Regions from separate parts of the Homo sapiens genome. Here all the other regions are reported to be linked to region 5. Evidence: microRNA targets listed by miRTarBase, many of them from high-throughput screens and not tested one by one. Region 5 holds a microRNA gene; each other region holds the end of a gene's coding sequence.

Region 1 (5,085 bases), not on the chromosome of region 5:
TTATCTCACGTCCCTGCACCTGCAAGACAAAAAGTCGGCGGCAGCAGAAGCCCCTACGGATGATCAGCCTACAGATCTGAGCCTTCCCAAGAACCCGCACAAACCTACCGGCAAGGTCCTGGGCCTGGCTCATTCCACCACAGGGCCCCAGGAGAGCAAAGGCATCTCCCAGTTCCAGGTCTTAGGCAGCCAGAGTCGAGACTGTCACCCCAAAGCCTGTCGGGTATCACCCATGACCATGTCAGGCCCTAAAAAATACCCTGAATCGCTTTCAAGATCAGGAAAACCTCACCATGTGAGACTGGAGAATTTCAGGAAGATGGAAGGCATGGTCCACCCAATCCTGCACCGGAAAATGAGCCCGCAGAACATTGGGGCGGCGCGGCCGATCAAGCGCAGCCTGGAGGATTTGGACCTTGTGATTGCAGGGAAAAAGGCCCGGGCAGTGTCTCCCTTAGACCCATCCAAGGAGGTCTCTGGGAAGGAGAAGGCCTCTGAGCAGGAGAGTGAAGGCAGCAAAGCAGCGCACGGTGGGCATTCCGGGGGCGGATCAGAAGGCCACAAGCTTCCCCTCTCCTCCCCTATCTTCCCAGGTCTGTATTCCGGGAGCCTGTGTAACTCGGGCCTCAACTCCAGGCTCCCGGCTGGGTATTCTCATTCTCTGCAGTACTTGAAAAACCAGACTGTGCTTTCTCCACTCATGCAGCCCCTGGCTTTCCACTCGCTTGTGATGCAAAGAGGAATTTTTACATCACCGACAAATTCTCAGCAGCTGTACAGACACTTGGCTGCGGCTACACCTGTAGGAAGTTCATATGGGGACCTTTTGCATAACAGCATTTACCCTTTAGCTGCTATAAATCCTCAAGCTGCCTTTCCATCTTCCCAGCTGTCATCCGTGCACCCCAGTACAAAACTGTAGGCTCAGCTCTGCCCAGCAGTCCAAAGCGGCATGGCCAACAGAGCTTCACTCCTTACCCAGGAGTGCTGGCTTATAGAGTTAGAAGTCAGTATTTCTTCTAATCTGAGGCTATGATCAGTCCCAGCTGTAGGGGCCCAGAGGGGAGGTGAACATGCCTGATTTTTGTGGGACAACTCTAGCCCACAAACTGACTGGCTGGTGAGTCTTGACTCCCTTCCAACACAGATGCCCAGGCACCTCCAGATCATTCACTTCGCACGTGGGCCTTGTGAAGGGATTTGTGAATATCCAGGAAGAACTTAGAGGACCCCATCTGAGTTCGGATGGTCAGGAAACAATCTGGGCAAAAAAGAGGCAGGCATTTCAAAGGAAGGGGCAAGGAAGACTGGCAAACAGATGGCAAGGGATGCCCCTCTTTTTCATAAAACTCTCCAAGGTTCAATCAATGCAATGTATAGTGAAACTTCAATAGATCTTTCATTTTGACACTATTAAACAATCCAGAGAAGTAAACACTGTTAAATTGACTGTATATATTTGCTTCTTAAAACTACCTGTATCACTGTTTGCTCACCTAATTTATATACAGGTAGTTCCATTTTCTCCCAGTTCCTTCTCGTCTTTTTTTTTTTTTTTTTTTTTTTTTTTATTAAATGGTATTGCTTTTGTTTGCAGGTCTTTTTGTTTTTGTTTTGTTTTTGAGGCTGACTGACTGTCCTAGTTGTTGTGTGTTTGTAATTTTTCCACATCTTATTTTGAGCAGCTTTGGGTGGTAAAGTTATTGTTTACAAATTGAAGCAACTGATTCTAGTGGAACAAATGAAAAAGAAACAGTCAAGCACACAATAGTGCAAAGAACGTTCCTTTGTAGATCCGCAACTTAAGGATTTTGTTCCTCATAAATGGCATAGTTGAAAGAGCTTATACACTGCTTACCCAGCCAAATGCTTTGCTTTGAAGTATTGGGTTCTGTGAAAATATTGAGCATTGTACTTACCTTATCTAGGCTGTGAAACTGTCCTACATACCAGAGAATCATAAAAACAAAAACCTCACTGGCAGCAAGCTGCCGAATAACAACAGAGTCTAGAGGACATATTTGTGGGCTGCACAGATATTTTAGGAATTTCAGAAATTAGAACAGGAGCCAAAATGATTTACATTGGCGTTGGCACTGATTCCTTTAAATGGTCTGGGAAAGGGGGTTGGGAAGAGGATGGAGCTCAACTGGCCAGAAGAGGAGCAGCTGCAGTCCTGATAGCTTCTCTAGCCTCGGTCTTTTGAGTGATAAGTAGTCATGTTGTTTTCATCCAGTTGGTTTCTTGTCATTCCCAAGAAGAATCTCCCAGGCCACATCTTTGGGGATAACTGACATACTGGATTAGCCTTTTCAAAAGAAAAGTCATCCTATTTGGTTTTATGGGGTGTGAGTTTTGTGTGTACACACACAGAAACATGTAAGGTGGTTTGGGTCATGTTTTTAACCACCTGGCAATACAGTCCACTTTCTGGTTTCTTTTATTGTGGGAAGTAAATGGTCAAGCTGCTCAGGCAGTGAAAAGATGTGGAGAATGTCCGTTGTCATTCTTGCCACTGTATTCCATTTGCTACCGAGATATAACATTAAGGTGGACACATTTTCTAACTGTATTAATTAAAAGTCAATGGATACAGAGAGTGGATTTTCTCCCCAAGTCCCATCCCTGCTGAAGACCGCTTGGATGAACTCCCCAACCCACTGTGCCCCTCCCGCAACACTACCAGTAGACTTTAGAACCATAGTTAACTAAGTCTTTTACCTCTGAGATACTTAATTCTGGGAAAATTGGTGACAATTTTCAACTTCTAAATAGGTAACTCGACTGCAAAATAATCAAAACTGATAACAATGAAACTGCGGCTCTTAAACAAAGCCATGCATGCCGTGCATTTGTATTGAAATGTCTCCATGATATGAAGCCAAATATTCAATGTAACATACTTAATATCCAAAGGTGGAAACAAAAGAATGTAGAGATCCAGTGTTAAGAGTTCCATTTGCTTCAATTAATTATTTACCTTCCTGTGGAATAATATATATATATATATTTAATAGAACCATAGATAGACTAGTAGAATTTAGATTATAAATGTGTGAGTGCAGATTATCCTGCTATTGCACAAGCTAGAGGGGGGAAAAATCTCAATTCCAGCTGGCAAGATGCTAGCCAGGACACATATAAGAAAGTTGCACTAGATTGAATGGTCACAGAATCGGAGGACATGGAAGAAAAAGGAAACTTCGGTGGTTCTGCAGCAGACATGGGCTAGGTCATATGTGGTTTCTATGAGTTCGTGTCTCAAAAAAAAAAGGAGGGGGGGCATCTGTCCCCGGTGGAGCTCACCTATTTGGAATATGGGGCATTTGTTTTTTCCACTGCAATGATTTCAGTCTGGTTTCATCATGTTGGAATTCGATCACACCATTTTCAAACAATGTTAACATAGTCCAGCTTTTGTTTTTCTCATCTCTTCTGAGAGGAGACTCACTGTTTCTGTCTGAGGAAGCTCATACCCTCGGCAAAACATCAGGACAAATAAAGAGAAATGGGGGTACGCATTCCCAACAGAAGCAGTGTGTTATTTGTTTTAAAACTCTGAACAGAGATCTTGGAAATCTTTCAAAAAGACCATTGAATTCTTCATTGGCTGAGAACGACGTTTTAAAATGTCTTAAATAAGGCTTTGTTTGCATTGTTTGAGTTCAAGGGGCCTTATTATTGAATGGAATTGCACAAGCCTTTCTTTGTGCAATCAAACCATTGTTATTGGTAGTTCTGTAAAGGAAACTGTGGAATCGAATTGGCAGTGGAGTCATAAATCTATTTACTGAGTGTGGCTTCCAAGAAATGTTGCAATTCAAAATGCACTAAGTCTGTGATTTATTGGAGATTTGGAGATTCTAAATAATATTTTTAAAAAACTTCCATGCAACTTCTGGTTTAATGTTTGGCAACTCCACATGATAAAAAAATAAAAACAGCCCAACCGAGTTTCGGAATTAAGTATTCTTCTAGTAAGTGATTCAAACTTGTAATATTTGCCACAGGACTGACTTATTTATTTACTAGCTAGAAGCTCTTAAGTTCACTTGTTTATCAGGGCATATACAGAAGGGTTTGTTAAAACTCGATGTTAACTTTACAACTTTCTGACCTGGTGCATGAATTCTCAAGTACTGTATTTCACTGTGTTGGTGTGTCTGATGGAAATTTCGAGGTGGTCCCACAAAAATATTTTATGTAGTGTGCCTTCAAAGAGAACCATTTATTTCTCTTCACTTATCGTCCCACAAAGTCACATTTGGTGGTGGTCAGCCAAGTCGCATCTGGTCTAGTTTTACTCTTGTCCCAATTTTAAAGAGAAATGGGAATGAGTTTGCCCTGGTGAGACCCATACCATTGCAATGATTATCTTGAGCACTTAAAGTCCAGTGTTGGCTGTTAGTGTATTTGATATTCTGCCTGTCTCCTCATGGTTGAAATATGTCTGAAGAATAGCAGCATAATCTCTTGGCTGTTTATACTTTTTTAAACTTTCCTGTGTTGTAAATATTGTATACTTTTGGTGATTCCAGCTATGTAACCTCTATGCTCTGTAAGGTGATTATTTGTATATAGCAACATGGCCCAGTGATATTATATAGTTTCCCAATGGAGAGGTTATTGAGTAACCTTTGCATTAGTTTAAACACTACCAGAAGAATGCTGAGCCAACTATAAACACTCAATTTTGTATGTTTTCCAAATTGTACTTATTACTGCTTTTGATACTGTATTACGTGCCAATAGTTTCCCAATCACATAGCAGGCAAGAGATATTTTGTACTTTTTGATCCACTGTAATATTTAATAAAAAATGTTACTATCTGTTTCCTTTTGGGTGTGAGTAATCTGTCACTCTTCCTGAGGAGCCTGTGGCCTCCCCAGAAGACTTTCCACCCCATCTGTCCAAATTGAATGATAACAGTAATGATGGCAATGTCTGTAATTCACTAAGGACCTAGTGGGTGCCCATTTGGCAAATACCTCTTATCTTCACAACCTTATGTAAATATGGTTATACCTATTTTACTTATGAGAAAACTAAAGCTTAGAGAGGTAAATCAACTGGTCCAAGATCAC
Region 2 (5,091 bases), not on the chromosome of region 5:
AGCCAGAAAATAAGATGTTTGTCTGGTAGCTAACCAAGCTTCTTGGAAGACAGACCTCTTGAAAGTTAATGTTTCAGTTACAAATCACTACCAGATTTTCTTACATCCATGCTGATCCTAAAATACTGAGGACATGGGTTTCTAAATATGTATCATTTCAAATGTTGCATTTATTGTATGTTCTAAAGTAGAAGTCTACAAATTATAATGTAACTAACTCATAGCCATTATTTCTAACCAGTAATTAAATTCTTTTGGTTTTTGTCTAGGTCCCAACAAGCATCAGAGTGCTGTGACCTGTTTACAGTTCAACAAGAACTTTGTAATTACCAGCTCAGATGATGGAACTGTAAAACTATGGGACTTGAAAACGGGTGAATTTATTCGAAACCTAGTCACATTGGAGAGTGGGGGGAGTGGGGGAGTTGTGTGGCGGATCAGAGCCTCAAACACAAAGCTGGTGTGTGCAGTTGGGAGTCGGAATGGGACTGAAGAAACCAAGCTGCTGGTGCTGGACTTTGATGTGGACATGAAGTGAAGAGCAGAAAAGATGAATTTGTCCAATTGTGTAGACGATATACTCCCTGCCCTTCCCCCTGCAAAAAGAAAAAAAGAAAAGAAAAAGAAAAAAATCCCTTGTTCTCAGTGGTGCAGGATGTTGGCTTGGGGCAACAGATTGAAAAGACCTACAGACTAAGAAGGAAAAGAAGAAGAGATGACAAACCATAACTGACAAGAGAGGCGTCTGCTGTCTCATCACATAAAAGGCTTCACTTTTGACTGAGGGCAGCTTTGCAAAATGAGACTTTCTAAATCAAACCAGGTGCAATTATTTCTTTATTTTCTTCTCCAGTGGTCATTGGGCAGTGTTAATGCTGAAACATCATTACAGATTCTGCTAGCCTGTTCTTTTACCACTGACAGCTAGACACCTAGAAAGGAACTGCAATAATATCAAAACAAGTACTGGTTGACTTTCTAATTAGAGAGCATCTGCAACAAAAAGTCATTTTTCTGGAGTGGAAAAGCTTAAAAAAATTACTGTGAATTGTTTTTGTACAGTTATCATGAAAAGCTTTTTTTTTTTTTTTTTTGCCAACCATTGCCAATGTCAATCAATCACAGTATTAGCCTCTGTTAATCTATTTACTGTTGCTTCCATATACATTCTTCAATGCATATGTTGCTCAAAGGTGGCAAGTTGTCCTGGGTTCTGTGAGTCCTGAGATGGATTTAATTCTTGATGCTGGTGCTAGAAGTAGGTCTTCAAATATGGGATTGTTGTCCCAACCCTGTACTGTACTCCCAGTGGCCAAACTTATTTATGCTGCTAAATGAAAGAAAGAAAAAAGCAAATTATTTTTTTTTATTTTTTTTCTGCTGTGACGTTTTAGTCCCAGACTGAATTCCAAATTTGCTCTAGTTTGGTTATGGAAAAAAGACTTTTTGCCACTGAAACTTGAGCCATCTGTGCCTCTAAGAGGCTGAGAATGGAAGAGTTTCAGATAATAAAGAGTGAAGTTTGCCTGCAAGTAAAGAATTGAGAGTGTGTGCAAAGCTTATTTTCTTTTATCTGGGCAAAAATTAAAACACATTCCTTGGAACAGAGCTATTACTTGCCTGTTCTGTGGAGAAACTTTTCTTTTTGAGGGCTGTGGTGAATGGATGAACGTACATCGTAAAACTGACAAAATATTTTAAAAATATATAAAACACAAAATTAAAATAAAGTTGCTGGTCAGTCTTAGTGTTTTACAGTATTTGGGAAAACAACTGTTACAGTTTTATTGCTCTGAGTAACTGACAAAGCAGAAACTATTCAGTTTTTGTAGTAAAGGCGTCACATGCAAACAAACAAAATGAATGAAACAGTCAAATGGTTTGCCTCATTCTCCAAGAGCCACAACTCAAGCTGAACTGTGAAAGTGGTTTAACACTGTATCCTAGGCGATCTTTTTTCCTCCTTCTGTTTATTTTTTTGTTTGTTTTATTTATAGTCTGATTTAAAACAATCAGATTCAAGTTGGTTAATTTTAGTTATGTAACAACCTGACATGATGGAGGAAAACAACCTTTAAAGGGATTGTGTCTATGGTTTGATTCACTTAGAAATTTTATTTTCTTATAACTTAAGTGCAATAAAATGTGTTTTTTCATGTTAGTATGCCTGTTTCTTCCACTGAAGTAATAATCCTTCATTATAAGTATTTAGGATTTGTCTATAATATTTAAATAAGCAAAATCTTGGTTTCTTTGCATCCTGCTGTGTGACATAGAAATCAATACTTCAAGCCTGTTTTATACCGCGAAAGTAAGGATAATGTGCTGCAACTGCAAATTTTATTTCTCTCCTAGACTATGAAGGAGGACACTCCACTGTGCTCATCTCTGTAGATTGCATTGGGGTGTATAAATATGAAATCTGGTTCCCTCAAAGAATCCACAAAACTTTTGTGATAATTACAACTAGAAGCCTTATAAATAACAAATTCATTTTGAAATTTTGACCACATATTAAGTGCTTACCCTCGATACTTTCTGTTCATTCTCTCTTAAGCTCCCACTATCCCTGAGAAGTAGGCACTATTATCTCCCATCTTAAAGACGAGCAAAAATCTGCAGCTGAGACTGGTTAGGCAATTTGTCAAATCATAGAACTAGCGGAATGCCAGAACTCAAACCCATATTTCCAAAGACTAAATACATGCTGCTCTTTAAGAAAGTTTGACAGACTAAAGCAAGGTTTGAGAGGGAAATAAGCCATTTTTCTGGTACTTTCTGACTGTTCTGTAGCCGTTTTGTTCAACAAATCTAAATTTTATAAAATCTAAATTTTATGATGTAAGGGGAAAAAATAAAGTTGTTTTTGAAACTAGTTCTAAATATATTTAGTATCTCAAATAGCAGGAGATATATATATATATATATATATATACACACACATATATATATACACACATCCAGTAATCTCAACTAACCAGGCCGTAGATGAAAATATAAAAGCTACTGAAAATGGACTCCCCTTTTTCTCATAGTCATAAAGTATGTGTTCTTTACTCATAGGGCAAATCCTGGGCCTCATTCTCCCAAAGCTACTAAATCAGAACACCTGGGAGTGTGACCCAAGAACCTGCATTTAAACTAGCTCACCAGGTGAGTTGTGGATACTAAAGTTTCAGAACCATTGCTTTAGATACCATTCCTGTACATTTGGTTATTTGGTTTATTAGTCCACAGCAAATTACAGACACAAAAATAGCAAGGAAAAGTGACAGGGTAAAGGAAAAAAACAAAAAACTACCTGGTTGAATGCAAGGCAAAAATCCTACTAGGCCGTGAAGTGCAGGGTCTTTAGAGTAAACCACGTTACTGCCCAAACCGTGACTACTGTTCACATTGATGACTGTGAATTGTCAAGAAAAAGTTGTAATTCTATTTGATAGTTCTTGAAACTGCTTGATTTTTCATAAGAGCATATAAATGAGGCTTAACTAGAATATAATTGAAGAGAAACATCCATTTTTAGAACTTTAGAGAATAGAATGAGTTCACAGGCTTTGCAGACAAATAGCCCTGAATTCATCTCAGTTCTAGTATGGTCTAGTTACTGGGACCTTTATCATGTTTCTTGACCTCGTGTTTCCTCATTTAAGATGTAGAGGATACCCATCTCCTAAGGTTATTATAAAGATTAGGTGAAACGTAAAGCACATTGCATACCGATGGCATTTAGAGCTCAGTAAATGGTAGCTTCTATTAAAAATTTTAAGTAAATAGACCCAGATAACTTTCTATATTAGAGAATTGAATGTATTTGTTACTCAGATTATGTAATAAAAATAGCATACACATACACACGTGTGCACACACACACACAGCAGTCCATTCTTTTACGTGGAGCCATCTAGATTCTCATTTGAGTTTTACAGAAACCTTGTGAGACAGACTGATATTGAGCACCTAACAGTGGTTTTGTATATACAGTCATCCTTCAGTATTTGGGCGGGATTGGTTTTAGGATCTCCCCAACCTCACCCCCATGGATATCAAAATTCATGGATGCTCAAGTCACTGATATAAAATGGCATAGTATTTGCATGTAACATATACAAGCCCTCCCGTATGCTTTAAATCATACCTAGATTACTTATAATACCTAAGACAATGTAAATGCTATGTAAATAGTTATTATACTGTATTGTTTAGGGAATCATGACAAGGGAAAAAGTCTGTACATGTTCGATACAGACATAGCCACCCTTTTCAAATATTTTTGATTCTCGTTTGGTTAGATCTGTGGATGCAGAACCCACAAATAATGGAGGGATGACTGTGTTTAGGTGTTCATTAAACATCATTTTATGAATAAATGAATAATCTTTATTACAATAAATCTTTGCTTGAAGGGAAAATGTTAGCATCCTTCTACAGGAATCAAAGTATAATTGTTGTAAAAAGGTCACTAAGAAAACTCCATTTTGTGGCCTTTTTAATGAAAAACTTTACCACCTCATGTAACTGTACATTTTAAAATCTTCATAACAGATATAGGCACACTTCATATTTAGATGTTACAAGTTCCCAAATATCAAACATTGCCTGAAACTAAGGCTGAAATTAGGACACAAAAGTAACCCATAAAAGCCAGTAGCAGGTACTTAGTATACTTGTTGAACTGAGCAGAGTTGATTATCTCATTATTTTATATTAGAATTGTTTATAATTTTGACACTTTGAAACCCCCTTATTGAGATTCAATTACCACAGCTATTTCATTAGGTTGCAAAAGCTAATGCCTACCAAATGGTAAGTAAATGTTTCAACCAGCCTTGTTTCATTTCAGAAAAGTAATTGACATTTAGTTATTTGTATTAACTGCTTTAAGCCATTTTCTCTACCAGCTTTGAGCTAGTCTGTTGTAAACTCTTCCATTTCCCTGAATTGATTAGAGGCTACAAAAGACCTCTTTGCTTTTCTCTTCCCTAAAGTGAAATGGGGATCAAGGGCAGCTTCCCCAGACCCAGCTGAGCCCTGGTTTTCTGTACACTTCTCCCTGAGATACACGTTGCACACTGTGAAACAAAGGTACGG
Region 3 (5,000 bases), not on the chromosome of region 5:
TGCTACTCGAAGGACAGCCTGTGATCAGTGATGCAGTGGAACGTTAGGACCTGGCTCTTGTCATCCAGAACTATGTTTTCTTTTCTTTTTGAGACAGTATCTCGCTCTGTCGCCCAGGTTGGAGCGCAGTGGCGTGATCTTGGCTCACTGCAACCTCCGCCTCCTGGGTTCAAGTGATTCTCCTGCTTCAGCCTCCCCAGTAGCTGGGATTACAGGTGCCCACAACCACAACTGGCTAATTTTTGTACTTTTAGTAGAGATGAGGTTTCACCATGTTGGCCAGGCTGGTCTCCAACTCCTGACCAGTAATCTGCCCGCTTTGGCCTCCCAAAATGCTGGAATTATAGGTGTCAAAACTATGTTTTCTGATAAGCTACGATGCTTGGATGGGAAGTGGAAGTGGGGTTCCCTGGGATGGGGGAGGGGCAGCAAAGTCCCAGCAGGCAGCCAGGCCATCACAGGTACCTCCTGAATTGACTTTGTCCTACCGAGTAAAGGGCTCAGGCCACCCACAGCAGCCAGACTTATCCCCACATGGTCCCACTTCCCTGATTCCATCTGAATCCCTCTTGAGCTGCAGTGGGCTGAAGGGCTATCCCAGCTGGTCCTTTCTCCCCAGGACAACAGAGTTGAAAGTGCCTTGGAGAGTGTTGGGCACATGTCAGGGTTCATACTCAAGGGTTTCTTCCACGGTATCCAGTGCTGTTCTCGCTTGTTCTTTTCTTTTTTTTTTTTTAAACGGAGTTTCACTCTTGTTGCCCAGAGCTGGAGTGCAGTGGCATAATCTCGGCTCACTGCAACCTCCGCCTCCCAGATTCAAGCAATTCTCCTGCCTCAGCCTCCTGAGTAGCTGGGATTATAGGTGCCAGCCACCAAGCCCGGCTAATTTTTGTATTTTTAGTAGAGACAGTTTCACCATGTTGGCCAGGCTGGTCTCGAACTCCTGACCTCAGGTGATCCACCCTCCTCAGCCTCCCAAAGTGCTGGGATTACATGTGTGAGCCACTGTGCCTGGCTGCTTGTTCTTTTAAGAACCAAATATCCTACTAGACTGCAATCGAGTTTAACTACAGTCTATAGATAGTGTGAGGAAGGGTTGGGAAGGTGATCAAATGAAGGCTGGAGGCTTGCTTAGGTCAGAAACATTTCTGGAGGATGACTTTGAGCCCTACATGGTCTGTACCCCAGCAGCTGAAGGTTGTTGAGGGGTGGGGAGGGCTGAAAACAGAACGATAAAGCATAGACCTTGTCTCCAAGGAATGCACAATTTATGGAGGGAGCTCAAACCCAAGCCTCAAACTCTGGATACAAGGTACAAAGTACTGGATGTCCAGAAAAGGGACAGAACATGGAACACAGTCATCTTTGTCTGCCTGGGAGGCGGCTTCCAGCTGGGTCTGGAGCTGAGCCATGGAACATGGGAAGAATCTGAACTTGGGCAAGGGCAGGCCATACTCTCTGGTAGATAAGCTTTCCCTTGCAGGGTAAAGGTCTGGGGCTCCCGGGATGCCTGTTGCTAGGAAGTCAAATTTCTCTTTGTGGATGTCACTCCCAGTTGGAACCACAAATTCCTGGCATTGCCCAGAGTCACTCATGGGCCTCATCTGAACCACTCATGCCAGGGCACCAGTGTTTCTGACTGCCTGGAGTGAGGGGTTTTACAGGGGAAGTGAATGATGAGGAGGCCTTTACACGCCAGGCGGGGTGGTTGCGGGGGTTGGATGTTAACTCTGGTCAAGAGGGAATCAACAAACAGTGAGGTGAGCTGGGCCTGGAGGGATCACCGGGAGGTACAGGACAGATCAGGAGAGAGGTGAGAGCTGGGGCATGGTGAGGAAGACGGTGTGGCCTTGGCTTGGGCCAACTGAGAGAGAGGAGCGGGGGTAAGGGAGAAGTAAGGCCAGGTGTTGGTCCTTTGTCCACTGGCTCAGCCCTGCATCTCCTGTTTCTTTCCAGCCTGAACAAAGAGGAGATGGAGTTCCAGCCCAATCAGGAGGACGAGGAGGATGCTCACGCTGGCATCATTGGCCGCTTCCTAGGCCTGCAGTCCCATGATCACCATCCTCCCAGGGCAAACTCAAGGACCAAACTACTGTGGCCCAAGAGGGAATCCCTTCTCCACGAGGGCCTGCCCAAAAACCACAAGGCAGCCAAACAGAACGTTAGGGGCCAGGAAGACAACAAGGCCTGGAAGCTTAAGGCTGTGGACGCCTTCAAGTCTGCCCCACTGTATCAGAGGCCAGGCTACTACAGTGCCCCACAGACGCCCCTCAGCCCCACTCCCATGTTCTTCCCCCTAGAACCATCAGCGCCGTCAAAGCTTCACAGTGTCACAGGCATAGACACCAAAGACAAAAGCTTAAAGACTGTGAGTTCTGGGGCCAAGAAAAGTTTTGAATTGCTCTCAGAGAGCGATGGGGCCTTGATGGAGCACCCAGAAGTATCTCAAGTGAGGAGGAAAACTGTGGAGTTTAACCTGACGGATATGCCAGAGATCCCCGAAAATCACCTCAAAGAACCTTTGGAACAATCACCAACCAACATACACACTACACTCAAAGATCACATGGATCCTTATTGGGCCTTGGAAAACAGGTCTGTCCTCCACCTGAACCAGGGGCACTGCATTGCCCTGTGCCCCACCCCAGCTTCCCTTGCTCTGAGCCTACCCTTCCTCCACAATTTCCTAGGGTTCCATCACTGCCAGAGCACACTGGACCTACGCCCAGCACTGGCTTGGGGTATATACTTGGCCACCTTCACAGGGATCCTAGGGAAGTGTTCGGGACCTTTTCTCACTTCACCCTGGTATCACCCGGAAGACTTCTTGGGACCAGGTGAAGGAAGATGAGGTTGTGCTGACCAGAATGCTGCTGGAGAACTGCCCCAGGGCTGACAGGCCAGGCTTAGCTGAGCAGATGTTATCACTGGCCCCAACTTACTTTGAGCAAGGGTGGCTGACCCAAAACCATGAGGTGGCAGTCAGCTGGATGACAGATGAACACTTCCCCCATAACTATTTAGGGTAGTACCCAAGCACTACAGGAAAGGGTGGCAGGAACTGCCTCACTCCTAGGAACTGGTAGATGGTGAGGTTGAGGGTGTCCAGCGCCCTTAGGTCATTTTCTCACTGCCTGGGAACCTCACCAAAATACTTCTTGCTTCCTTGGGGTCAGCCCAAAGCTGTCACAAAATCAGATATTTCCCTTTATTCCAGATTTCCTGGACACTTTCACCCAATTATAAACACCCCACTTCAGCCCCAATCACGTGGGAGGAAGTGTAACTTCCCTTTTCTGGATTCTCAAGCAGTTACTTTCACGGTCAGAACACGCAGCTATTATGATTGAAAACTTAAAAGGGCAACAATTTCAGTCTTGCTTCTAGGGCTAGACAGGAACTTGGCAAACATCTGTGGCCTGTTCAGCAAAGGATGTTAATATTTAAGAATCTTGTCTTGGGCTGGGTGTGGAGGCAAGTGGATCACAGGAGGTCAGGAGTTTGAGACCAACCTGGCCAACATGATGAAACCCCATCTCTACCAAAAAAAATACAAATCAGCTGGGCGTCGTGGTGTGCCTGTAGTCCCAACGCAGGAGGTTGAGGGGAGAATTGCTTGAACCCAGGAGGTGGTGGTTGCAGTGAGATTGAGCAACTGCAATCCAGCCTGGGCGACGGAGTGAGACTGTCTCAAAAAAAAAAAAAAAAGGATCGTCTCAACCTTTGCCCTCCTACTGCAACATTTTGGTATTTGAAATGAAGGGACCTTCCATACTTATGCTGTTAATACTTTCATTCTCACTAGGGATGAAGCACATTCCTAACCTGCTTCCTAATGGGGATGCTTCGCCAGCCAGGTCCTCACCTGTGTGTACACCAGCAGGACACTGATCCAGTCACAGCCATACAGCTGTCCACACTGAAGAACATGTCCTACAACAGCCTGAATCAAATGGTTAGCTTAATAGATAAAAATCCCAGACTACTTCAGCCTTTAATGCCTTTTATTCATAAAAACTGTGAAAGCTAGACTGAACCATTGGAAACATTTAACTCAGACTCTGGATTCAGAGTCGGGAACCCTTAGTTCTATCTGAATCCAAGACAGCCACACCTTAGTATACTGCCCAAACTAATGAGTTTAATAAATACAAATACTCGTTTCTTTTTGATTAGTGTGATTAGAACTGAACAACGGCACTTAAGGAATCTGGAAGATAGCCTGGATAGATTTCTGATTCATCCCAAGACCTCAAAGACAACACCTGGGTACCAAATTTCTTTATTTGAAGGAATGGTACAAATCAAAGAACTTAAGTGGATGTTTTGGTACAACTTATAGAAAAGGTAAAGGAAACCCCAACATGCATGCACTGCCTTGGTGACCAGGGAAGTCACCCCACGGCTATGGGGAAATTAGCCCGAGGCTTAGCTTTCATTATCACTGTCTCCCAGGGTGTGCTTGTCAAAGAGATATTCCGCCAAGCCAGATTCGGGCGCTCCCATCTTGCGCAAGTTGGTCACGTGGTCACCCAATTCTTTGATGGCTTTCACCTGCTCATTCAGGTAATGTGTCTCAATGAAGTCACACAACTGCAAAACAATGGGGAAGACAGTTAGTGGGCAGCTTTCCCAATCCCTAAGGCAAATGATTTCCTCCATTTATTTCCTGGGGTTCCAATACTCACATGGGGGTCATTTTTGTCAGTGGCCAGTTTGTGCAGTTCCAGTAGTGACTGATTCACATTTTTTTCCAAATGTAATGCACACTCCATTGCATTCAGCCCGCTCTCCCAGTCATCACAGTCTGGTTTCTGAATGAGAATAGGTTAATGCATCTCTACCAACTAACCTAGAAGTCAGCAAGCCCATCATCTCTAACCACCACGTTTTGGCAAAAGGGACATTACTATTTGCCTAATTTAGTTTAGATGGTAAGCCTAAAAAAGCACAAAAGGCAAAAGCCCAGTGTATCATCACTTTATAAGGGCAATTGCTAG
Region 4 (5,091 bases), not on the chromosome of region 5:
GCAAACAGAGTGCTAAGAATAAGCCAGTTGGATGCACTTGAACTAAACAAGGCCCTGGAGCAGCTAGTTTGGTCCCAGTTTACTCAGTGCTTTCATGGATTTAAACCTGGGCTGTTAGCTCGCTTTGAGCCAGAGGTGAAAGCGTGCTTATGGGTTTTCTTGTGGAGATTCACCATCTACTCCAAAAATGCCACAGTGGGACAGTCAGTTTTGAATATTAAGTACAAAAATGATTTTTCCCCTAACCTGAGATATCAGCCACCCAGTAAAAATCAAAAAATCTGGTATGCTGTTTGTACAATTGGTGGCAGGTGGTTAGAAGAACGATGCTATGATTTGTTTCGAAACCATCATTTAGCATCATTTGGGAAAGTCAAGCAGTGTGTGAATTTTGTGATTGGACTTTTGAAATTAGGTGGGCTGATTAATTTTTTGATTTTCCTTCAGAGGGGAAAGTTTGCAACTTTGACAGAACGTCTCCTAGGTATTCATTCTGTATTTTGCAAGCCTCAAAACATATGTGAAGTTGGCTTTGAATACATGAATAGGGAACTTCTCTGGCATGGTTTTGCTGAATTTCTGATTTTTCTCTTACCACTTATCAATGTCCAGAAGTTGAAAGCCAAGCTGTCTTCATGGTGTATTCCTCTTACTGGTGCACCTAATAGTGACAATACATTAGCCACCAGTGGCAAAGAATGCGCTCTATGTGGAGAGTGGCCCACCATGCCTCACACCATAGGATGTGAGCATATTTTCTGTTATTTCTGTGCTAAGAGTAGTTTCTTATTTGACGTGTACTTTACTTGTCCTAAGTGTGGCACAGAAGTACACAGTCTGCAGCCACTGAAATCAGGAATCGAGATGTCAGAAGTAAATGCTCTTTAGAAACTAAAATTGCTTCCTTTGAGGAAAAAAATGCACCGTGTTTAAATTCTTAATATTAGTCATCCTAAGTATACCATTTATGTATCCTTTATAAGGAATGTGCTCCTAGCCACTGTCTTCTCCTTTCCAGGCATGACTGAAATCTAATCACTGGAAACCATGTGATTCTAAATATATTATGTAAATGTTAATGTATTATGTTTTTTAAATCATTGCATTCAATTTTTAATGTCAAGAATAATGGACAGCTTTTGTCAGGTGACTACTAACAATGCTCCTTCATTTTACTACTTCTTAAAACAAGGTTGGATTCTAAAGATAAAGATTTTGGAGACTCTGGGATGAGTGTGCATTTATTTTCAGAGTTGACATAATATGATAATGTGACAATTATGAGACTGTTTTAAACCTTAAGACCTGATGCCTCAGTTGTAACTTTTTTTTTTTTTTCTGAGACGGTGTCCTGCTCTGTCACCCAGGCTGGAGTGCAGTGGCGCGATCTCTGCTCACTGCAACGTCCGCCTCCCGGGTTCAAGCAATTCTCCTGCCTCAGCCTCCCGAGTAGCTGGCACTGCAGGTGCATGCCACCATGCCCGGGTAATTTTTGTATTTTTAGTAGAGATGGGGTTCACTGTGTTAGCCAGGATGGTCTCTATCTCCTGATCTGGTGATCCACCTGCGTCAGCCTCCCAAAGTGCTGAGATTACAGACGTGAGCCACTGTGCTTGGCCGCCTCAGTTGTAATGTTATGCTTTTCTCTGAAGCCAATTTTTAAGAAGTTCAGTCCTCAGCTGTCTGACCCCTCCACAGTTGGCTTTATATTCAGAAAGTAAAAATTACTTAAGGCAGCTTGGAAGTGAGGCCTGGGAACTACTGGGGGCAACTAGTATGAACAGCACTATTTACAGGTCTCTTTCTCTTGCCTTTGATTCAGAGCTGTCATTCTCAGTAAATATTGATAGTTTTATTGAAACAAAAGGGGTCTTTAGCATGGGAATAGTAACAGCAGTGCATAATCAAGATAATTCTGTATCCTTCACTCTTTTTCTCTGCCTTTTTTTACTTAAAAGTAAATTCAGACTCTTAAAATGGTATAGAATTATTAGCTTGAACATTGAATTATCTCGTCTTAACTAGAATGTTTTTTAAAAAACAGTTTTTAAATGTTTTTAAATAAACATCTTGCTAGTATGATGGAAATACACTGCCAGTTCATTTTTCTCTTCACCTTTCATTGAACAAGTACTCAGGTGCCAGGTACTGATGTAGCCATTAGAGGCACAACAGTATATTAAGCAGGAAAAATCAAGTTACCTTCATGGAGTTTACATTCTGTGATTGAATGAACTGTAAGTTTAATTTAGGTTCAATTTAGTGTAAGATACTGAAGAAGTTTTGTAGTTTGAGTTAAGAGTATTTTACATCTTAAGAATTTGCCTTCTTTTGCCTTCTGTAATTTTAAAACATTATTGTAGAAAACACCAACAATTCAGGAAAAAATATAAAATCAACTTTCCCACAATTTTTTGAGAGAGATCATCACTATATTTTACTATATTTGTAGATTTGTTGCACGTACATTTCTTATTTACAAAATTATTATAATGCATAAAAAATAGCATTTTTTCCTATGTATAAATATTCTTCAAAACTATTTTAGGGCTGAGCACAATGGCTCATGCCTGTAATCCCAGGCTCCCTACTTAGGGAGGCTGAGCCCAGGAGTTTGAGTTCGTTTCTAAAAAAATAAAAATATATACAAACGTCTTTGTTTTTTGTTTGTTTGTTTGTTTTTGGTGAGAAAGGGCCTCACCCAGTCACCCAGGTTGGAGTGCAGTGGTGTGATCATGGCTAACCGCAGCCTTTCCCTCCCAGGGCTCAAGCGATCCTCCCATCTGAGCCTCCCAAGTTGCTGGGACCACAGGCCCATACCACCATGCCTGGCTAATTTTTGTAGAGATGAGGTCTCACTTTGTTGCCCAGGCTGGTCTTGAACTTCTGGGCTCAAGCAGTCCTCCTACCCTGGCCTCCCAAAGTTGTGGGATTACAGGCATGAGCCACTGCACCCAGCCATAATATATTTTTAAAATGCTATGTATATGCCATCATATTCCTATTCCTATTATTATTTAACCACCATCATAGAGCATTTAGGTTCTTTTCACTTTCTGTTGTGAATAATGCAATGTTGAATCTGAGTTCATTAAGTGAAGAGTCCAGCTGCACACTGCAGGCCCAGTCTGGATGTAGGTGCTCAGATGGTTCTCTTTGAGACAGGCTTTATCCTTTGGCTCTCATTTTTTTGATGAGTGTACATGGCATGAGGGACACAGATTCCGCTAGAATTCAAATCCCACTTGTGTATAACCTAGGGCAATGTGCCACATCTCTGCACATCTGTTCATTGTAAGGATTACATGTTTAGTGTATATAAAGCTCTTAAAACAATGCCTGACACATAGTAAATAGAATATAATAGTAGTGCTTTCCTTTGCTGTTGTCAGTATTACTCTGAGTCGGTTTCATTCTCACACAGAATGATGGCCGCTAGAAGCTCAAGGCTTATAATCTGCTAGCTTTCTGATCCCACTGGCATGAGATACTCTTGCCTAATAGTTACAGCTAAAGTCCAGGAGCTCACTGTTACTGGTCTGCCTTGGATTATGTGCACATTCCTGAACCAGCCACTATAGCTAGGGGATGGAAAATACTGTTCCTGGTTACTTAAATGTAGGTGATGCTCCTCCCATATACCACATGAACCTAAAGGAGTCCTGGAGGAGGCCGTTCACCACAGGAAACTGAGGTGTTCTTAGAAGGGTGGATGCTGGCAGATCTCTACTAGTTAGAGTCTACATTTGCCTTACTCATTTCAAAAGTCCACATTGCAGTCTCATTTTACCAGTGATCTAGCTTGATAAGGACATTCATAAGTAACTGGATGATTCTTTAACATTGCAGATTTGAAAGGATTAAATAAAGTCAACAAAATTGTTATATCAACAATTGTATTATTTTGATAGAGTAACTTCTAAGTAGTTATCCATATTCTCAAAATCTTAAGAAAACAGTACTTTACATATATGCCAGCTGATAGACTTGTCAGTATTGGGGTAGGGGGTGGTTTTTTTCCACAGACCCTAATGGCACTTAGTAAAAATAGGTTTTTATTATTTTTCATTTTTATTTAACATCTGCCACCCCTACTAGGTGATAACCCCCATGAGTTCAGAGACCATGACTATTTTGTTCATCACTAGATAGCCAGAGCCTTTTAGTTCTAGTGTAGCAATAGAAACATTTTATTAGCTGAATAAACCTAAGGTCGCAGATAGGGTTCTGCAGAAGCTGGCGTTGAAAGGGGTTTGAAGTACAAGAGATTTTTATGTATAACTCTCAGGGATCCATGCCTGTGAAGGGAAAGAGCAAAGCAGGAATAGGCAGAAGAAATGAGAGTACTCTAAAGCAGGCCTGAAAAAAGTTGGCCAGCCCAGAGGGGAGCTCTGAGCTAGTGTCATCTGTCAGAATGTCCTAAATTAGGCCAAAGTAAATAGGCCTTTTTACCTACACTTCTGTCAGTCACTGGGTGTGGGCAGCTCTGGGAAGGTTGTGATCTCAAGCATGGCAGCTCTGTAGCGGAAGCAGATCCTGTGGGAGCCAACAGCTGGAGGCAGTCCACTGACCACATTCCACAGCTGGGCACCATGTACATCCTTGCAGGAGGAGCCAGGTGGCATATCTTGGTGTGTACCACATCTAATACTGTCCATTTTTTCCTTTCTGGTTTCCTTTTTTTTTGTTTTTCTTGCATATAGTACACTGGACAAACAACACACTAATGCCAGGTAGTGTTCGTTTATAAACAATAGATTTATGACTGACACACCCAAGTGTCTCTTGAGTATCTCTGCCCCACTACAAATACCAGACTTCTTGGCCAAGTTGCTATGACAGCCCCCAGGAACTCCATTCAGTCTCTGCCTCTCTGGGCACTGCCAGAAGAGTTGCTATACCTCTGGTGCGACTGTTTCTACTCCCCAGCAGGCTCCAGGCTCAAGCTTTAGGAAAACTGGATGGGATTTAGCTACATGATATGTTTCCATGTTAGCCTCAAGTATGTAACCATCAGTTACAAGTGTTCTTCCTTAGGAAAATAAAAACATTTACACTTAACATTTTTCTTTTCTCTCCCTTGCACTTGCT
Region 5 (5,091 bases):
ATTATGCCCCTGAGGAGCAAGGTACAGTACTACCTTGATCCCTCAGAAGAAGGGGTAATCTGGAGGTATGGGCAGGGGGAGAAAGGTATGGATGCAATTTGAGAACCTGAGCCAAATATACCCAGTGGCATCTCCCAGGAGATGAGGCACTTTGCAGTAGTGACCATAGACCCTGGAATGGTGGGGCTTAGCAGCATTCTAGACTCTTTACAGCCATGTGTAGCAACAGCAAGTATCCCAGAATGGCAAAGCACAGCTCTAGTTTGGGCCGGGGGGGAGTGGGTACATGGATGACTGCACTCCCCAGGGAGAGAGGTATCTCAGAAGCCCAGAATAGGGAACTAGTCCGGCTCCAGGGAAGCAAGGTACTAGAGGTATTTGGCATATAGGGTGGAGTATTTCAGTTCAGCCACTTCTCTCTTGCCTGGGCGGCAGGATACTATAACAGCTCAGCCTTGGAATATGCAGCTGTTCAGCTTGGCCAGGGCATTGACTTCCCAGGGGCAATGTGCCACTTCAGCTCAGGCCTGTGGGATGTGACTGTTCTAGGCAGCCCAAGCCCCATTTCCCTGGAATGCAGAGTGTCACATCAGCTTAGGTACTGGGGTGTGTGACCACCCTGGCTGGTCAAGGCATCATTTCCTGGGATGCAGGGCACAGTTTCAACTTAGGCACTGGAGAGGCATGACTTCTCTGAGTGGTCAAGGTAATGTTTTCCCAGGATACTGAGTTTTTGTTTTTGTTTTTTTTTCCTTTTGCTAATACCTAATGGGATCATATGGTAGTTGTATTTGCAGTGTTTTGAATAACCTTTTTATACTGTTTTCCATAGTGGCTTTACTGTTTATAGTCCCACGAACAATATGTAAGGGTACCTTTTTCTCTGCATCCTCACCGGTATTTTTTTCGTTTAATAACCATCCCAAATGGTGTGAGATGATACCTCATTATGGTTTGATTTGCATTTCTCTGATGATTAGTGATGTGGAGCATTTTTCCATATATGTGTTGGCCATTTATATGTCTTCTTTTCAGAAATATCTGTTCAGATCACTTGCTTATATTTTAATCAAATTTTTTTGGTATTTTTTTGTTTGAGTTTCTTATATATTCTGGATATTAATGCCCTGTCAAATGAGTACTTGGCAAACATATTCTCCCATTCTGTGGTTGTCTTTTCACTATATTGATTGTTTCATTGGCTCTGCAGCTTTTTGGTTTGATATAATCCCCTTTATTTTTGATTTTGTTTCCTGTGCTTTTGATGTCTTATTCATGAAATCTTTTCCGAAACCAAAGTCCTCAAGCACTTCCTCCATGTTTTCTTCTTGCAGTTTTATCATTTTTGGACGTATATTTAGGAATTTGATCCATGTTGAGTTGATTTTTGTATAGAATGAGAGGTGAAAGGGGGCATCTGTTAGGTTGATATAAAAGTAATTGCAGTTTTTGCCATTACTTTCTAATAGCAAAAATCACAGTTACCTTTGCACCAGCCTAATAGTATCAGTCTTCTACATGTGGATATCCAGTTTTCCCAGCATCATTTATGAAACCGTCCTTTCTCCAGTGAATGTTCTTGGCACCTTTGTCAAAAATCAGTTGGCTATAGATACGTGCATTAATTTACGGATTCTCTATTCTGTTCCATTGGTCTATTTGTCTGTTTTTTTTTTCCCCCAGTACCATGCTGTTTTGGTTACTATAACTTTGTATTATATTTTGAAGTCTGGTAGTTTGATGCTGCCAACTTTGTTCTTTTTTGATTAGGCTTACTTTGGCCATGCAGGATGTTTTGTGGTTCCGTACAAATTTAAATTTTTTTTTCTACTTCTGTGAATGACGGCATTGTTGTTGGCTGTTTTATTTTATTATTATTTTTTTAATTTTTAGAGACAAGGTCTTAGTCAGGCAGGAGTGTGATCATGGCTCAGTTATGGCTCACTGCAGCCTCAAACTCCTGGGCTCAAGTAATCTTCCTACCTTAGCCTCCCAAGTAGCTAGTACTACAGGCATGTGCCACCATACTCAGCTATTTTTTTATTTTCTTGCATAGATGGGGATTATGTTGCCCAGGCTGCTCTTGAACTCCTGGACTCAAGGGATCATTCTGCCCCAATCACCCAAAGTGCTGGAGTTACAAGTGTGGGCCACTGTGCCTAGAACTGCATTGGTATTTTGATAGTAATTGCATTGAATCTTTAGATTGCTTTAGTTAGTAAGGTCATTTTAACAATACTGATTATTCACATCCATGAGCTTGGGATGTTTTTCCATTGGTTTGTATCCTTTTCAATTTACCTCATTAGTGTTTTGTGGTTTTCCCTGTAGAGGCCTTTTTCCACTTGAGTTAAATTTATTCATAGGGTTTTGTTTTGTTTTGTAGTTTTTGTAAATGGAATGGGCTTCTTTATTTTTTTTTCAGGTAGTTTATTGCTAGTGGATAGAAATGCTACTGATTTTTGTTGGTTGATTTTGTATCTTTCAACTTTACTGAATTTGTTTAACAGTTCTTAAAGGTTTTTTTTAGGTGGGGAGGAGGGTGTTGAAACAGAGTCTTGCTCTGTCACCAAGCTGGAGTGCAGTGGCTCGATCTCTGCTCACTGCAACCTCTGCCTCCCGGTTCCAGCGATTCCCCTGCCTCAGCCTCCCAAGTAGCTGGGACTACAGGCATGCACCACCATGCCTGGCTAATTTTTTGTATTTTAGTAGAGACAGGGTTTCACCATGTTGGCCAGGATGTTCTCAATCTCCTGACCTCGTGATCCACCTGCCTCAGCCTCCCAATGTGCTGGGATTACAGGCATGAGCCACTGCACCTGGCCAGTTTTTCCATGTATAATATGTCATTTAAAAACAGGGACAATTTGACTTCCTCTTTTCAAATTTGGATGCCCTTCATTTCTTCCTCTTGCCCAATTGCTCTTGTTTGAACTTTCAATACTATGTTACATAAGAGTGGTGATGGTGGGAATTATTGTAACATTCCAGTTGTTAGAGAAAAAGCTTTCAGCTTTTCCTCAATCCACATGATATTAGCTGAAGGTATGTCATATATGGCCTTTATTGAGTTGCGGTACTTTCCTTCTATACCTAATTTATTGAGAGTTTTTATCATGAAAGCATGTTGAATTTTACCAAATGCTTTTTCTATATTGACATGGTCATATGAATTTTGTCCTTCATTCTGTTGCTTTAATGTATCATGTTTACTAATTTGCATATGTTAAAACATTCTTGCATTTCTCAGATAAATCCCACTTAATTCTCATATATTATTTCTTTGATGTCTTATTGGTTTTGGATTGCTAGTATTTTATTATGGATTCTGCAACTATCTTCATCAGGGATATTGGCCTACGTTTTCTTTTTTTTGCTATGTCCTTGTCTGGTATCTGAGCAATGCTGGCCTATGAGAATGAGTTAGAAAGAGTTCCTTCTGCTTCAATTTTCAGAATCATTTGAGAAGAATTGGTATTAATTATTTTTCAAAGGTTCTGTAGAATTCAGCAGTGAAGCCATCTGGTCCTGGGCTTTTCTTTGTTGGGAGATTTTCAATTACCTGTTCAAACTTGTCACTTATTATTGGTCTATTCAGATTTTCTATTTATTCTTGGTTCAATCTTGGTGGGTTGTATTTGTCTAGGACTTTATCCAGGTTTTCAAATTTATTGGTGTATACTTGTTCATAGCAATCTTTAATGATCCTTTGTATTTTTTTAGTAAACATTGTAATGTTACTACTACTGCTACTGTCATTGTGTATGTTTTTCATTTCTGATTTTATTTATTTGGTTATTCTCCCATTTTTTCTTAGTCTAGCTAATGGTTTGTTCATTTGGCTTATCATTTCAGAAAAGCAACTTTTTATTTCATTGATCTCTTGTGTTATTATTTTAGTGTTAATTTCATTTATTTCTGCTCTGATATTTATTATTTTTGTCTTCTACTAATTTTTGGTTTGGTTTGTTCTTCCTTTTTTAGTTCCTTGAGTTGCAGTGTTAATTGGTTTATTTGAGGCTGGGAAATCTTTCTTGTTTTTTCATATAGGGGTTTACTGATATAAACTTGCCTCTTAATTCTGCTTTTGCTCATCCCATAGGTTTTGGTATTTTGTGTTTTCATTTTCATTTAAGAAAGATTTAAATTTTATTCTTAATTTCCTCTTTACCCATTGATTATTCAGAAATGTGCTGTTTAATTTCCATGTAGTGTATGCTTTCAAATGTTTCTCTTGTTATTGATTTCTAGGTTTATTCCATTATGGTATTATAGGGTACTTGACATAATTTTGATATTTTTAAAATTTTTTTGAGACTTGTTTATTGTCCTAACAGAAACAATATGGCCAATTCTGAAAAGTATTTCATTTGCTGATGATGAGAATTTGTATCCTGCAGCTGGTGGATGAAATGTTCTGTAAGTGTCTGTTTGGTCTGTGGTGCAGTTTAAATCCAATGTTTCTTTGTTGATTTTCACTCTAAACAATCTGTCTAATGCTGAGAGTAGGGTGTTGAAGTCTCCAACTACTAATGTATTGCGGTCTATCTCTCCCTTTAGGTCTAATAATATTTGCTTTTTATATCTGTGTGCTCTGGTGTTGGATATATATATATATATATATATATATATATATATATATATATTCCAATTGTAATGATTTCTTGCTGAATTGATCCCTTTATTATTTTATAATGTTAATTTGTGTCTCTTTTTACATCTTTTAACTTAAGTCTGTTTTTCTGATGTAAGTATAGCTATTCCTGCTCACTTTAGGGTTTTGTTTATAAGGATTATCTTTTTTCAATCCTTTCAATTTCAGTCTATGTGTCTTTACAGGTAAAGTAAGTTTCTTGTAGGCAGCATATATTTGGGTCTTTTAAAAAAATCTATTTCACCAGTCTATATGTTTTAAATGGGAAATTTAATCTATTTACATTCAAGATTATTATTAATAGGTGAGGACTTACTCTTGCAATTAATTGTTATCTGCTTGTTTTGTATATCCTTTGTTTCTTACTTCCTCTCTTATTTTTAATTATTGCAATTAGGTGGTTTTCTGTAGTGATAGGCTTGATTCCTTTCTCTTTG
Region 6 (5,091 bases), not on the chromosome of region 5:
AGATAATGAACTTAAGTGTTTGGTAAGTTTGAAGTTTGTACACAATTAGAGGATGAGTATGCTATCTCAGAGCATCTGGAAATAGGAATGAGATCTGTCTATGCTGTGAATGCCAGCACAAATCACTTCTAAATGCCTTATACCAAAGACTAGCCATTAATAACATTTACCAAATGTCAAGCAATTGTGCCAGCTGCTCTACTTGCATTTTTTCACTTAATCCTTACGACACTTTGAAGTAGAGAGATGTTTCTATTATCCTAATTTTATAGTTAAAGAAAATGAGATTCGGAGCTCACTTGCTGAAAATCACCCATCTCGTAAGTATTGGAGCCAACATTCAAAATCAAGTCTGCCTGTCTTTAGAGCCAGTATTCATATGACCACAGTGCCATACACTACACCTTCTTAATTTAAGAAATAAATACAAAACCACAGAATTAAAATACATGCTTTCCAGGTTAAGATGGTAGATGAAGCACGTATACCTACCTCCACTCCCTCCCAAAAATCCCATTAAATGACGGTAAAGGTTTTTGTTTTAAGATATAAACCTAAAAGGATGGAAGAAAAGAGGAAACAGGAATAAAACGTTAGAAGCTGGAAAATAGGTAGATCAACAGTAAATAATGTAGTAGACTCTGAAAAACTGAATTCTGAGCCAGCGGTAGAAAAAGAAAAAAACCCACAAGAACCCCCAAACAACAACAAAAACTCACAACCTAATTTATATCATGGAATCCCTAAAAGGCTCAGAAACTAGTGGCTTCAGGTGCCTCTAGCAATAAGGGGTAGAAGGGTAGACATTAAAATAAGAATTGGTGCAAGGTTTAAGTAATCAGATGCTCTCTGCAACTCTATGCAGCAAAACAGCCTCCATTACACAGTACCCTCTCAAAATGATAGTTTTTTTTTTTAGGCCAGGTGCAGTGGCTCACACCTGTAATCTCAGCACTTTGGGAAGCTGAGATGGGCGGATCACCTGAGGCCAGCAGTTCGAGACCAGCCTGGCCAACATGATGAAACATCATCTCTACTAAAACTACAAAAATTAGACAGGCATGGTGGTGTGCGCCTGTAATCCCAGCTACTCAGGTGGCTAAGGCACAAGAACCGTTTGAGTCAGGGAGGCAGAGGTTGCAGCGAGCCAAGATCGTCCACTGCACTCCAGCCTGGAGCAAAACTCTGTCTCCAAAAAATAAAAAGTTTATTTTCTGAAAAGGGTAAAATAGAAGGTCTCTAGATTATGGGATGCCAGGCAGTTTGGGCAGAGGTACTATACTCAAAACAGAGACGCAGTGAGCAAATACATACTGGATATTGAAACACACACACACACACCTGTCTGTCCTGAGCCTCACCACAGCCCTATTCCTTTGAATCCCAGAACGTTGGCAGGGCCTCATTCAGCACTTGGGAGATTGGAAGAGTCTTTGTTCTCTGAGCAATGACCAGCTCAATGGGAAATAACTAAAGATACAGACGCAAAAAGTTTTCTCAACAAAAATGGCCCAATAGATGGCCCTTTGGCAAAGTTCAACATCAACAAGCTCCACTCCAGGCCTTTAATCCATGTTAGTTCCCAATTTTTAAGTGTGAGCAGACAACCAAGGAAAGCATCTAACATGAAACAAAAAAAGAGAAAAGCAATTACAGATAAAATAGAATATAAAGGAAAAAGAAAACATTAAAAGTACTATTGTTCTAAAAAGAGAGCAGAAGGAAAAAGAAGGGGAGGAAATCAATAAAAACCTATAAGCATTCATTGGTGGATGCTACAAATTAATACGACTGAACTCATGGAGACAGAGTAGAATGATGGTTACCAGAGGCTAGGAAAGGTTAGGGAAGGAATGCAGGGATGGCTAATGGGTACAAAAATATAGTTAGATGTAATGAATAAGTTCTAGTATTTGATAGCATAATGGGTGATTACAGTCAATAATAATTTACTGTACATCTAAAAATAACTAAAAGTATAACTGGAATGTTTGTAACATAAATAAATTATAAATGAGGTGACAGATAATCCCGTTATCCTGATGTGATTATTAGGTACTGTATGCCTGTATCAAAATATCTCATGCACCCCATAAATATATACACTTACATACCCATAAAAAATAATAAAATTATTTTAAAACCTACAAAATTTGAGAAATAAAGATACAAGTTTCAAGTTTAAATAGGTTCACCAAGTGCCCACCACAGTGTATTAAAATAAACACACACTAAATGATGTCATCATGGAATATAAGCATACTAGGAACAAAGATCCTTGTTTCTCAGGAAGAAATACTTAGTCCCACAAAAAAATCAGGAATCAGAATGATTTCAGATTTCTCAGCAGCAACACTGAAAGCTAGAGGCTTTGCTTTAAAATTCTGAAGGAAAATGATTGCTAATCTAGAACCCTATATTCATCAAACTATAGAATAAAGACATTTTTAAGGCCAGGCACAGTGGCTCATGCCTATAATCCCAGCACTTTGGGAGGCTGAGGTGGGCAGATTACCTGAGGTCAGGAGTTCGAGACCAGCCTGGCCAACATGGCAAAACCCTGTCTCTACTAAAAATACAAAAATTAGCCAGGCGTGGTGGCACGTGCCTGTAATCCCAGCTACTTGGGAGGCTAAGGCAGGAAAATCGCTTGAACTGGGAGGTGGAGGTTGCAGTGAGCCAAGATCATGCCACTGCACTCTAGCCTAGTTGACAGAGCAAGACTCCGTGTTAAAAAAAAAAAAAAAAAAAAAAAAAAAGACATTTTTAGACCAGCAAGGTCATTCACCTCCTATGCCACCTTTCTCAGGAGGACACTGCCAGAGAAAACAGGCTCCATCAAACAAGGGAGTAAACCAAGACACTAGGTAACAGAAAACGAGATATAATAAGAGAGAAGAAAAGGAATTCCCGGACAATAGTGAAGGGAGTTCCCAGAATACAGTCACATATCAGGCATAGAGAAGGGAGTTCCCAGAATATAGCCACACACATCAGGCATAGAAGGCTATCAGTCCAGTCAGGGGCGGGTCAGAAGACTCCAGGAAACGCTTACTCAGGAAAATGAAACAGAGTACCTAATAAAGCTGATTGCTGTGAATGATTTAGATAAATGGCAAAAAGTTTAGTTGATTTAGTGGAAATTCCATAGAAAAACCAAGCCTAGAAAAAAACAAAAAGATACACAGCAAAAGAAAACCAGGTACTATACTCAGAATCCTAATGATACTAATCTACTCAAGATCACACTACGTTATCCTTTGGAAGGAAGAGATGACAAGATACGTGTGAGTGATGGCGCTAAGGACAGGAAAGAGACCTAAATCCCAATCACGACCGTCACATTATTTAGAGACCAAAAGGTAAATACCAATAAAATCAGCTAAAAAGAGGTGTATGTAGTTGCTCCTGGGGAGAAGGTTAAGGACTATCCCCCCTCCACTCAACAAACTTGGAGAACTATTTGGCTTAAAAATATAGTACTTTTTCCTTTGGTAGTATTAATATTTCATATACTCAGCATCAAGCAGTAATGCTACCTTTCATTAAGACTGCCTGGCAATAAAACACAATGACACTTCATCAGGATTGGCAAATTCTCTAGTCCAAAACAAGATGAACTTACTGAAGCTTGCAATAATCTCAATATAATACAAGTCTCACTAGTGATTGTTGGTTTGCAGCAAAAAGTAGGATAAGAAAAATAGAAACCCAACTTTTCTTAATTGATATGTTTATTAAAAACATAGACTAATAATGATCCTGTGCTTAAATGTCATTGTGGTTGTGTGCTGATTTCCACAAAACATAATATAAGAGACTCTTCACAAATACACTCTGGGCAGAAGAAAAAGGTAAACAGAAATGACTGACAAGACAGTGCCATTTCAGACACAGCTCCCTTAATACTTGCTAGAAAACGGAGTTTGACATTATTTACAATTATACCAGTATTGTCAGAGGCCAAACGTCACAGGGATAAGGGTACACCAGATCACGAGACATCGTTTCATACTTCCCAAATAGTTTTATATTTTAGCTTTGAAGGTCAGTTACCAGAGCCAAACTTGTTCTTAACAAGCAGAATTTTATGTCCATTCAAAGAGTCTCTTACACCTTTCTGGGCCTATTCACTTGCAGAGAGGAGTCGAAACTGTAACCAGGCTCTTCATATCGTGCATTCATATGTGATGTCCTGTCTTCATATGCTGTCCAATTTCTTTAAGATAAATGGAGCTGAAAGAAAAACAAATCTAAAATTAGTTTTCAAATCTATTAGCCCATAGGCTACATTATAGAATTATCAGGTTTATTCAACATGTTTTTGAAAATAACTCCAAGTGATGGTCAAGCATGTGCCTGTACAGCCCAGCAAAAGGGACTAGTTGCCTTCCAAAGCAGCCCATTCCACTGTCATTCAGCTATTATTGTAAATTTCATTCTTATACTACATAAAACCTTTTCTCCAGATAGTTTGCCCCTTAGGGCCATAAAGTATAAATCCAATTCTCTTTCAAATGACAAGGCTTTACTCTAGCGATTTATTTTAACTGTAAAAGGAACAAAACTCTAGAGGAAACAAATGGGCATTTTTCACCTTTAAAAACTCATTTGAAAGGCAGAGGATATGGGAAAACACTGAACTAGAGAACCGGAAGAGCTGGACACCTATTTTGGGTCTCTTACTGATTAGCTATATATCACTTAACATACTCTAGATCACATCTGATACAGTCCTACCTCAGTCATTAAGAGGGTCTAATAAGATCATGTACATAGAAATGTCTAGAAAACTAAGTGTCGACATATAGATCTAAAGAAGTGATATTACTGTCCTGTGTAAAAGTGTTGTGACCAAAAAAAAGCTACCCAAATCACCTTCTTTCTCAATACTCATACTAATAGAATTTTGTTAACATTATTTTATTTATTTATTTTTTTCAGCCTCCTGAATAGTTGGGACTATAGGCACATGCCACTATGCCTGGCTAATTTTTGTATTTTTTTAAAAGACGAGGTATCACCATGTTGCCAAGGCTGGTCTTGAACTCCTGAGCTCGAACAATCTGCCCGCCTCAGCCCCGCAAAGTG

Evidence for each region. Region 5 holds the annotated microRNA hsa-miR-548ba (AAAGGUAACUGUGAUUUUUGCU, at 1,468-1,489, opposite strand). A microRNA usually pairs through its seed, bases 2 to 8, with sites in the 3' UTR of a target mRNA and lowers its output. Matches are read on the target gene's strand: a 7mer-m8 pairs with bases 2 to 8, a 7mer-A1 pairs with bases 2 to 7 and ends in A, and an 8mer does both.
Region 1: the mRNA of ARID5B is a reported target of hsa-miR-548ba. Seed matches in the 3' UTR shown: 8mer at 1,916-1,923 and 7mer-m8 at 2,977-2,983.
Region 2: miRTarBase lists FBXW7 as a target of hsa-miR-548ba. The part of its 3' UTR that is shown has no 7-base or 8-base seed match.
Region 3: miRTarBase lists FTH1 as a target of hsa-miR-548ba. Seed matches in the 3' UTR shown: 7mer-m8 at 4,345-4,351.
Region 4: miRTarBase lists PEX2 as a target of hsa-miR-548ba. Seed matches in the 3' UTR shown: 7mer-m8 at 2,199-2,205.
Region 6: the mRNA of TOMM5 is a reported target of hsa-miR-548ba. Seed matches in the 3' UTR shown: 7mer-m8 at 3,852-3,858.

The regions. Positions count from the first base shown.
Region 1 is chr10:62,092,109-62,097,193 of GRCh38, forward strand. It overlaps ARID5B (AT-rich interaction domain 5B), which reads left to right. Exons shown (of 10, transcript NM_032199.3): 10 at 1-4,836. The coding sequence ends at 922. Among named protein-coding and RNA genes, the nearest start is that of LINC02621, 160 kb to the right of the region's middle.
Region 2 is chr4:152,318,328-152,323,418 of GRCh38, reverse strand. It overlaps FBXW7 (F-box and WD repeat domain containing 7), which reads left to right. Exons shown (of 14, transcript NM_001349798.2): 14 at 270-2,875. The coding sequence ends at 538. Among named protein-coding and RNA genes, the nearest start is that of FBXW7-AS1, 17 kb to the left of the region's middle.
Region 3 is chr11:61,960,299-61,965,298 of GRCh38, forward strand. FTH1 (ferritin heavy chain 1) reads right to left here. Exons shown (of 4, transcript NM_002032.3): 3 at 4,689-4,814; 4 at 3,987-4,593. The coding sequence ends at 4,429. BEST1 (bestrophin 1) reads left to right here. Exons shown (of 11, transcript NM_004183.4): 10 at 1,957-2,595; 11 at 3,806-4,163. The coding sequence ends at 3,824. Among named protein-coding and RNA genes, the nearest start is that of FTH1, 4.8 kb to the right of the region's middle.
Region 4 is chr8:76,979,058-76,984,148 of GRCh38, reverse strand. PEX2 (peroxisomal biogenesis factor 2) reads left to right here. Exons shown (of 4, transcript NM_000318.3): 4 at 1-3,891. The coding sequence ends at 888. Among named protein-coding and RNA genes, the nearest start is that of MIR3149, 15 kb to the right of the region's middle.
Region 5 is chr2:49,056,001-49,061,091 of GRCh38, reverse strand. It overlaps MIR548BA (microRNA 548ba), which reads right to left and starts at 1,489; the gene lies at 1,434-1,489. The region is part of intron 2 of FSHR (follicle stimulating hormone receptor); the gene reads left to right.
Region 6 is chr9:37,584,697-37,589,787 of GRCh38, forward strand. TOMM5 (translocase of outer mitochondrial membrane 5) reads right to left here. Exons shown (of 2, transcript NM_001001790.3): 2 at 3,717-4,236. The coding sequence ends at 4,202. Among named protein-coding and RNA genes, the nearest start is that of TOMM5, 5.4 kb to the right of the region's middle.